Linked DNA regions of Homo sapiens: all the other regions are reported to be linked to region 3. Evidence: microRNA targets listed by miRTarBase, many of them from high-throughput screens and not tested one by one. Region 3 holds a microRNA gene; each other region holds the end of a gene's coding sequence. Distances are from middle to middle.
The links. Region 3 holds the annotated microRNA hsa-miR-4525 (GGGGGGAUGUGCAUGCUGGUU, at 2,166-2,186, opposite strand). A microRNA usually pairs through its seed, bases 2 to 8, with sites in the 3' UTR of a target mRNA and lowers its output. Matches are read on the target gene's strand: a 7mer-m8 pairs with bases 2 to 8, a 7mer-A1 pairs with bases 2 to 7 and ends in A, and an 8mer does both.

Region 1: miRTarBase lists WNT9B as a target of hsa-miR-4525. Seed matches in the 3' UTR shown: 7mer-A1 at 18-24.
Region 2: miRTarBase lists FKBP8 as a target of hsa-miR-4525. Seed matches in the 3' UTR shown: 7mer-A1 at 496-502 and 7mer-A1 at 657-663.

Annotation. Positions count from the first base shown.
Region 1 is chr17:46,876,278-46,879,277 of GRCh38, reverse strand. It overlaps WNT9B (Wnt family member 9B), which reads right to left. Exons shown (of 4, transcript NM_003396.3): 4 at 1-3,000. The coding sequence ends at 2,560. It also overlaps a transcript of LRRC37A2 not described here. Among named protein-coding and RNA genes, the nearest start is that of WNT9B, 26 kb to the right of the region's middle. RefSeq lists enhancers at 450-949, 2,259-2,859.
Region 2 is chr19:18,529,266-18,532,604 of GRCh38, reverse strand. It overlaps FKBP8 (FKBP prolyl isomerase 8), which reads left to right. Exons shown (of 9, transcript NM_012181.5): 9 at 350-842. The coding sequence ends at 436. Among named protein-coding and RNA genes, the nearest start is that of ELL, 8.9 kb to the right of the region's middle. RefSeq lists an enhancer at 2,212-3,097.
Region 3 is chr17:82,666,116-82,669,454 of GRCh38, forward strand. It overlaps MIR4525 (microRNA 4525), which reads right to left and starts at 2,192; the gene lies at 2,118-2,192. All of the region lies in intron 1 of RAB40B (RAB40B, member RAS oncogene family), which reads right to left. RefSeq lists an enhancer at 2,667-2,846.

The sequences.
Region 1 (3,000 bases), 36 Mb from region 3:
CCCGGCCTCCTGCTCAGTGGGGGACCCGGTCAGGTCAGGCTGTATCTCCCCAGACAGAGGGTTTCCGGGAAAATACACAAACCCCACCTGTGCTGTCTGTGAAATATAGCAACTATATAAATAATATAAATACTTTCTCATATATCTTAGCTATATAAATTATTCTCCTTTGCTCTAAAAACTATATATTTGAGGTAGACAAAAATACCCTGTGAGCATTTCCCTTAAAGCTGTAGAATGAGGGGTCAGTGGTCACTCTAGTCCCCAGGGGCCCCAAGAGGGCCGAGGTGGGTCTTCAGGGGTAACTGGAAAAGAAAGGGATGAGAGCAAGGAAGAAGAGAGGGAGAGAGACAGACAGAGAAGACCCCACAAGCCAAGGAGCCCTCAGAACCTGCACTGTGCCATTGACTTGGGGTGTCCATGTTAGCAGCCAGCCACTGCCTAGATGCCTTAGAGCCTGCCCTTTGCCCTCCCACGACCCTGGCACTGCCAGCCATGAAGTCAGAATGCAGGTGGCATGTTGGTGGATCAGGGTGCTCTGGCCTCCACGTTGCTCCCAGGCCCCCTGCTCTGCCAGTGAGGTCCCTGCTGCCTTACGCCCAGCACTGAGCCTGGGTGGAGGCAGAGTTGGGGTCTCGGAGGAGCAAGATGGATTGGGAAGGCAGAGAAAATCTCCATGCTGTGGGGAAGTGGAAGAAAGGAGAAAACCAGCCCTCTCCCCATTTTTCTCCTGCTGCCAAGGTGTGGGCCAGGTGCTTGGGTCAGCAATGTCATTTTAACGAGAGGGGCTCAGGTCAGTTTGGCTTCTCAGCCGGGCCTCTGCAGTCAAAAATCCTTCCAGCATCCAGCAGACTGCCCTGATCCACTGGAGACTGGGCAGCTCCTCCTCGCCCTTGGAGGTCTCAGGGAGTTGGCCAGGGCACAGTCAGCGGGCCTTTGTCCTGGAGCTGGCACAGGCGAGGTTTCTGAGCATTCAGCTGATTCTGAAATTTCCTGTGTTGGTGAAGGGTCAGCAACTCTAGGTTTAGGGAGAAAGGAAGCTGACAGATGGGCGTGGCAGGGCCAGCAAAGTGGCCAAGGGCTTCCCGAAAGAAGTCACTTCCTCCTGGGTGGCATCGGGCCCCACTCTGGGGAAGTACAATGCCTCCAGCAAGGGGACCCCTGCAAGGTCTTCATCCTGAACAAGAGAGGCATGTGCAACAGGAACCCCCAGCCTGGTCCAGGGGCTGTGCATCCATGTGTGCCTGTGTGGAGGTACCAGTCTCTCCTCCTTTCACAGAGGGCCTTGGCAGGTGCTGCTGAAAATGTCCACAGGATCTGAGGAAATTATCAAAGTCACGTCTCCTCCTCAAGTAAGAGCCAAAGTGAGGGCCAAGTGAGAGGCCATTAGGAACTGAAGGAGGCTACCCAGGAGCCAGGCTTAGCAAGGACTCAAGCACCTATAACCCCAGCCAGGGCAAAAGCCTTAACTAGATGAGCAGCCACAAGAATAGAAATGTAACTTCAAGTCATAGCTCGTGAGCCAGCTGTTCTTCAGTATTGTGAACTCAGCTGGTATGGGGGTGTCACAGACCAGGCAGGCCCCAGCCACAGGAAGTCACCAAAGCTCACTCAAGAGCCAGCTGAGAAACTGAGCTCGCCACGTCACTGCCAGGCACCAGGAAGCTGTTGCCCTCCTCCTCTGCGCTGGGAGTGAAGATTCCTTTGGCCAGCAGGGAACACAGGGAGGGGCCGTTGTCTCCCTGTTCAACCTCAGGTGCACTGAGTCCCGCCTTGGTGGCTAGTTCTCCCACCTGTCTTACCTGCACTGGTGGTAGTTTTGAGCACGGCTGGGTGAGTGTGCATAACCCAGCTCTCGAGACAAGAATGAGGCCTCAGCGGAGGCATATTTGAAAAGCCAAATCAAGGACACAGGGCTCCAGGGCACAGATCTCACTCGGGTCCACTCAAGCACAGAAAGCTCTCCTTTCTCTGAACGGATGGCTTCTACCACCTGTGCTTTCTCCCCATCTCTGGCACAGCAAAACCAGGGGAGTGGTGGAGGTGTGTGACACCTGGAGCCCACTGCACCTGAGCAGGGCCACAGGACCCGATTGACCCATCTCAGCCAGGCTCCCGCCTTCACTTCCAGCTGGCACTGCCTGCCTTGGCATTCCTAGCCCAGCAGTTCACCTCCCAAGAACATGCTGGCTCCAAGCCATTCATCCCAGGAAGCAAGATGGAATAGCCCCTCTCTCCCGTCCAAAATTTCAGTCCTGCTGTGCTCTTGGTCTCCCTTATTTCCCTCCATGTCTTTCTCACTCTGCCCTCCTCTCCAAGTCCTCAACAAGGTTGGGGATGCTTGGGTTAAGGGAGGAGGCTTTGCTTCTCTTTGTTGAGTATCGAGGGAGGCAAAAGGCTGGCCAAGGAATGGTGGTGAGTGGCACACTCGTGTGCATTGGCACACATGCCGGTTTATGCATGCATGTGATGACAGTCTGCCCAGAGGGCCGGCTGGGCAGCTTGAAGGGTGCCACAGGAGGTCCTGGCAGTGCCAGACTGGCTTGCTGGGCAGTAGGCCTAGTGCTTGCAGGTGTACACAAGCTCCTCCTGCACACATTGCTGGCACTCCACGTAGCAGCACCACTGCACCTGGCAGTGGCAGGAGAAGGCCACCAGGCGGCTCTGGGTGTCATAGCCCCGCCCGCAGCACAGGCTGCTGCAGCTGGCCTCCCGGGAGCACACCCTACCTGCTGTGCCAGGTGAGTACTTGCTGGGCCGGCAGAAGCTGGGTGAGTCCTCCATGTACACCAGGTCCCCAGACCTTGGGGCCAGGCCTTTGGTGAGGCTGCCCTGCCTGGCAGGGGCCCACAGCTCTAGGCGGCCCAAGGCCTCATTGGTGGCACTGGACACCTTGACAGCCGAGTCATAGCGCAGTTTCAGCACCTGGCCCGTCTCACGGAACGGGGAGAGCTGCTTCCAGCAGGTGCGCACGGCACAGGAGCCTGATACGCCATGGCA
Region 2 (3,339 bases), not on the chromosome of region 3:
TTATTTTGCATACATGGATGTCCTCGGAGACTGGGCCGTCCTGGGCGATGCAGGGGACGTGGAGAGAGCCCAGCCCTGTGTGATCATGAGTGGAGTCGAAGGTGGAACTCAAGCTGGAGGGCTGGGGGTGGACTGTGGAGCCTCTTCCAGGGCACGAGGGGCGGTGTCCTGGAGGAGGGGCCATTTGATTTGGGTTTTGCTGCATGAGTAGGAGTTTGCCAGGAAGTGGGAAATACATAGTCAGGCAATGATTTGTTGGGAGGTCTGTTTGGGCTGTGCTGGCAGCTGAGGCCCCAGAGGCCAGTCTTGACCTCCCTCCACCCTTCTCTCCCCTCCTTTTTATCCACAGTCCATCCCATGGAAGTGGCTGTTTGGGGCGACTGCTGTTGCCTTGGGGGGTGTGGCACTCTCTGTGGTCATCGCTGCCAGGAACTGACCACCTAGGTGGCTGCCACCCCCTCTGCACACCATGGACCCTGCCCTGCGCTCCCCAACTCCCCCAGGCTCCCTGTCCACTGCCCTCCCTGGTCTGGCCCCCTCCTCCGGGTTAGGGGAGCAAGGATTGGGGGTCGTGCAGCCCAGCCAGCAGGAGGGACTGAGGCCCTCTAGGAGGAAAGCCCAGAGGGAGGGGGCCCTCATTCCTTCAGACCCAGTTTTCCCCCACCCTCCTTACCCCGCTGGGCTAGGTCTCCGCCAGGGCTGGCCTCAGTTTCTCCTCAACAGGCCTGGGGGCAGCCCTTCCCCTGCCTAGTCCCCGCCTGAGTGCCAGCCCCCCACCCCGCCTGCCGCCCCCTGTCCAGGTTCCCTCCCCGCCACAGTGAAATAAAGCATCCCACCCTGCAGTTTCCACGGACTCCTGAGCTTTCTTCTCCCGCTGTCTGGGGCTGGGCCAGAGACAGCCTGTGATGCATCTGGAGTCACACAGCATGGTGGATGTGGTTGAGCCAGCTGGAGCTGGGGGTCTCCTCTCCGGGCACAACATACTCACTTTACAGAGGAGAAACTGAGGCATAGAGAAGTGGGGTGATGTAGCAGGGGCAAGTGGGTTGAGAGGTCTGACTCAGCTGGACTCTGGGGGTGTTACTGCCCAGCTCCACTCGTTACCCCAGCGTTCACTGTTTACTCACCTGAAATCCAGGACCCCAGTGGGCCCTACCTTGAGGCTGCTGCATGGGTTCTGTGGCATCATTGCTTTACCTAGTGGATGTACTGAATTCAAAAGAGACAGATGGTAGGAGGATGACTTGAGCACAGGAATTTGAGGCTTTAGTGAGCTATGATTGCACCACTGCACTCCAGCCTAGGCTGGAAGACCTCACCAGAGTGAGGTCTCTCTTTTTATTATTTATTTATTTATTTATTTATTTTTGAGACGGAGTCTCACTCTGTCACCAGGCTGAAGTACAGTGGCACGATCTCTGCTCACTGCAACCTCCACTTCCCGGGTTCAAGCAATTCTTCTGTCTCAGCCTCCCGAGTAGCTGGGACTACAGGCGCACGCCACCATGCGCAGCTAATTTTTGTATTTTTAGTAGAGACAGGGTTTCACCATGTTGGTCAGGATGGTCTTGATCTCTTGACCTTGTGATCTGCCTGCCTAGGCCTCCCAAAGTGCTGGGATTACAGGTGTGAGTCACCGTGCCCGGCTCTTTTTTTTTTTTTTTTTTTTGAGACAGAGTCTTGCTCTGTGGCCCCGGCTGGAGTGCAGTGGCGTGATCTTGGCTCACTGCAAGCTCCGCCTCCCGGGTTCATGCCATTCTCCTGCCTCAGCCTCCCGAGTAGCTGAGACTACAGGCGCCTGCCACCACGCCTGGCTAATTTTTTGTATTTTTGGTAGAGACGGGGTTTCACCGTGTTAGCCAGGATGGTCTGGATCTCCTGACCTCGTGATCCACCTGCCTTGGCCTCCCAAAGTGCTGGGATTACAGGCGTGAGCCACCGCGCCCGGCCTTTTTTTTTTTTTAATAAAGAGGTGGGGTGTAGTGTCATGGCCTGTAATTTCAGCTCTTTGGAAGCCAGGGTGGGAGGGTCGCTTGAGCCCAGCCTGGTCAACACAGTGAGATTCCATCTATGTTTAAAAAAAAAGTGCACCAGGCACAGTGGTTCCCACCTGTAATCCCAGCACTTTGGGAGGCCGAGGTGGGTGGATCACTTGAGCTCAGGAGTTCCAGACCAGCCTGCCCAACATAGTGAAACCCCAGCTCTACTTAAAATACAAAAATTAGCTGGGTGTAGTGGCACATGCCTGTAATCCCAGCTACTCGGGAGGCAGAGGTTGCAGTGAACCGAGATCATGGGACTACACTGCAGCCTGGGCAACACAGGGAGACTTCATCTCAAAACAAGAGACAGATGGGGTCCAGGGGAGAGGATGTGAATGTCTGGATGCAGCCTGTGAGAAGGCACAGCTGGAGGCCCAGGAAGACCTCTCCCAGGGGATGTGTGCGCTGATATTTCAGCGATGGCAAGGGTCTGCCCATGCAGGAAGCCGACAGCCCCAGGTCTGGGCAACAGCACGCCCAGTACAAAGACCCTGGGGCCAGGTCTAGCCTGGTGCATTCCAGATGGATGAGGCTGGGTAGCCTGCAGAGCCATACCCTGCAGGGCTTTAGGGGCCATGAGGAAGGGCCAGGGTTGATGCTGGGAGGTTCCCTGATCCCATCTGGCTCTCCCAACTCTGGACTCTGGGAGCTTCTCCTATGATGCCGCTCACCAGTGCAGCCAGGATGGGCGGAGCCAGCATCGGGGCCTCTGTCAGCCCAGCACCCACACCCTTTCTTCCTGCTGTTCCATCTTGCCCCCAAGAATAAGGGCATCCTTGAAAATAGACCACTACAGTCACCTCACCTGCATCTATCCCCTTACAGCCCAGGAGGGAAAGCTGCCTGCCACAGCCACCCAGGAGAAGTTGGTGCAGAAGGGAGGTTGGAGGGCCTCCCAAAGGCCTAGGACTCCAATCTACACCTCCACCTCACCCACTCACCCGCTTCTTCCAGGCCCTTGTTCTCTGGGTCACCTGGATGACTTGAGGCTGAGTGTGGCTTGAGGCTGTGCTCTCTTTCCAGTGGTTAGCCCCAGGTTCAGGCAATTCTCCTGCCTCAACCTCCCAAGTAGCTGGGATTACAGGCATGTGCCACCACACCCAGCTAATTTTTTTTTTTTTTTTTTGCATGCCAGCTCTGTCACCCAGGCTGGAGTGCAGTGGCATGATCTCAGCTCACTGCAACCTCTGACCTCTGCCTCCCGGGTTCAAGCGATTCTCCTGCCTCAGCTTCCCAAGTAGCTGGGATTACAGGTGCACGCCACCACACCTGGCCAATTTTTTTTATTATTTATTTA
Region 3 (3,339 bases):
GCACCTGGCTAATTGACAGGGCATTGCTGTGTTGCCCAGGCTGGTCAACCTCCTGGACTCAAGTGATCCTCCCACTTCAGCCTCCCAAAGTGCTGGGATTACAGGCATGAACCACCATGCCTGGCCACAATACATTTTTTTTTTTTGAGATGGAATTTCGCTCTTGTTGCCCAGGCTGGAGTGCAGTGGTGCAATCTTGGCTCACTGCAACCTCGGCCTCCTGAGTTCAAGTGATTCTCCTGCCTCAGCCTCCTGAGTAGCTGGAATTACAGGCATACACCGCCACGTCCAGCTAATTTTTGTATTTTTAGTAGAGATGGGGTTTCATCATATCAGTCAGGCTGGTCTTGAACTCCTGACTTCAGGTGATCCACTTGTCTCGGCCTCCCAAAGTGCTGGGATTACAGGCATGAGCTGCTGCTCCCGGCCAATAAATATTTTTAAAGGGAAAAATATGTTTCCCCGCCCCCATCACCCCCCAGACACCAGTGTTCTGCTTCTTTAGGAAACATCTCCTGTGTTCACTTCTAGCGCTTCCGGATGAGCACCAGGTCTGTCATTGAGAACATGGAAAGAGAGGGTTTGAGTTAAGGGGCTGGAGAATGCCGGGTAGGAGCACTGCCTTCCTAAAACCAGGTACAATGACACGTACAATCACAGGAACCCAAACTGCTTAGTAACAAGACATGACCAGCCTTTGTGGGATTTGCTTGATTTATTTCATGTATAGGATTTACTTGACAGTATCTCTCAAAGCACTAAACCTACAAGAGACAAGCCCTGGCCTCACTCTCGGCTGTGATCGGATGTTGAGTGCTTTGACAAGTATGGCTGAATAGGGAATCAGAATTCTAAAGGGAAGCGCGCCGCTGAGAGGCCGAGGGGAGAAGCAGCGCCGAGGCTCGCACCAGACCTCACCCTGGAGACCGTCGTGGAGCACACGGCCTCTGCAGCTCTCCTTCCAGAGAAGCCCACGATGTAGCCAGTGAGTGCCCAGAAACAGGCTCCTCTAAAAATGCGAGGCTGCGGAGGCCACGGTTCTCAAGCAGCTTCTGCCCCCTCGAAGGGTCTAGAACCCTTGGACTTGGCCACAAGCCCCCCTGCATCCCAGGAGGCAGTGTGCCGAGTTCCTGGTCTCCTGTCGGGCAGAGCGAGGTGTGCAGTGGCGGTGCCACCGGTGGCCTCCCACTTGGCTTGGACAGCTGGTCGCCCACATCTTCAGGCAGGCCTGGGCGTTGCAGCAGCTCTGGGCCTCTGTCCTCCACTTTCCACTGATGCAGCCATGAGCACGTGCATGGCACACCTGCCTGATCTGAGCACACCTGTGCAGCGCCTTCCATGAGATCCCGAGCACCCCTCCCTCCCACAGCTGCTGTGTCCAGCCTGTCCCCTGCCCTCTGCTTCCTCCTCCGGGCCCTGCCCCCTTCCTGGACTCCAGAGGCTCTTTCTGTGGTGCCACCAGAGCCCCAGAGACATGGAGTCCAGGCTTCCCGCATCCTCCTCTGTCTCCTGCTAAACTCCACACTCTGTCCACAGAGACTGCCCATCACGCCACCAGGTAGATTAGACCAAGCAACACCAGAGCAAACTCCCCCCGTCAGAGGAGAGTGATTCAGAGGACAAAAGATACAGCAGCACTGAGAACGCCCGAAGCACCCGCTTTGCAGACGCCACCTGCCCCGTGATGAGGCTCAGACAGAGCGGCCAAGCAGTCCCCTGACCCACCCAGTACGAGGCTTTCCTGAGCTGGCCAAACGTTTGCCACCGAGCCCAGCAGGCACGCTGAGTGCACCGTCTGTCTCTCTCTTCTTGGCATGGGCGCTGACGGGGCACTGATGGGGCCTTTGGGATGTTGCTCTTCCGGCTGGAAACCTCTGTGGCTGCTGAATTATTGTCCTGCATCCAGGAAGAATGAGGTACCCAGACAAGTGGAGGGTGAGCGAGACGAGGAGGAGCTTTACTGAGTGTTAGAACAGCTCAGGGGAGACCCACAGTGGGTGGCTTCTCTCTGCAGGCAGGTCGTCCTGACAAGTGTTCAGCTCTCAGCAGACAGGGTAGCTCTCCGCAGCTGGTCATCCCGACGTCCGCGTTGCTCTGAGTCTGGGGTTTTTGTGGTCTTCAGGGTGGGGAAGTGCACGCTGATTGGTCCACAGGCAGCCCACCCCAACCAGCATGCACATCCCCCCTCTGACAAAAGCACCGAGTCCTCCTTCCAGTCTGCAGGACTGGCAGCCCGGGCCCCAGGCCCCCTTGAAGCTTCAAGGTGTGGCTTCACCAGGGACCTGCCCCCTTCCACCCAGAAGTCTGTCTGCCTCCCACTGCTGTTCATGGCACCCAGCTTGTTCATGCCAAGGGGCGCCTGCAGGCCAGCACTGAGCCACCCTCAGCCCTCCCTCAGCTTCCCTCCCATGTTCAACAGCGCCCAGTCCCGAGGGGGCTGAGGTGGCAAGGGCTGGTGTGTCCGTGCTGCCCCAAGTGTGGACCCACCCGGATGGTCTGCAGCAGCACCTGGGCTCAGCCCCAACTGTGCTCCACGACTGGAGCGGGCGTGGGGAGTGAGGAGAGGCCAGGCATTTGGAGCAGGCACTTCTAAGCCTGCAGGGGGCAGGGGTGGCCTTCCCAGGCCTCCAAGAGCACAGAGACGCCCGCGTCTAGAGCTGCCCCAGGGCAGCGGGCCGCGGCACGCAGGGAAGGCGGAGCTGCTGCCTGATCCGTGGATCGAGAGGCCCAGCCATGCCTCCGCTGCAGCCGGCATCTTGGCAGCAGCCACTCTAGATGGGCCACTGCTACCATCAGCATCTTAGCACCAGGAGCTTGACCTCACCACAGTGGGGCACGCGGCGTAGCCTCCATTGCTGTCAGACCAAAACCACACTGCTGTGGTTTTCCCAGGTGACCAAGTGAGTATCAAGGAAACAGTCCTTTTACAGAAAGGAAAATAGCCAGGCACGGTGGCTCACGCCTGTAATCCCAGTTCTTTGGGAGGTTAAGGTGAGAGGATCGCTTGAGCCCAGGAATTCGAAACCAGCCTGGGCAACATGGTGAGACCTCATCTCTACAAAAAATTTAAAAATTAGGGCCTGGGCGCGGTGGCTCACGCCTGTAATCCCAGCACTTTGGGAGGCCGAGCGGGGTGGATCACCTGAGGTCAGGAGTTCGAGAGCAGCCTGACCAACATGGAGAAACCTTGTCTCTGCTAAAAATACGAAATTAGCCGGGCGTGGTGGCGGGTGCCTGTAATCCCAGCTACTCAGGAGGCTGAGGCAGGAGAATTGCTTGAACCTGGGAGGTGGAGGTTGTGGTGAGCCGAGATCACACCATTTCACTCCAGCCTGGGCA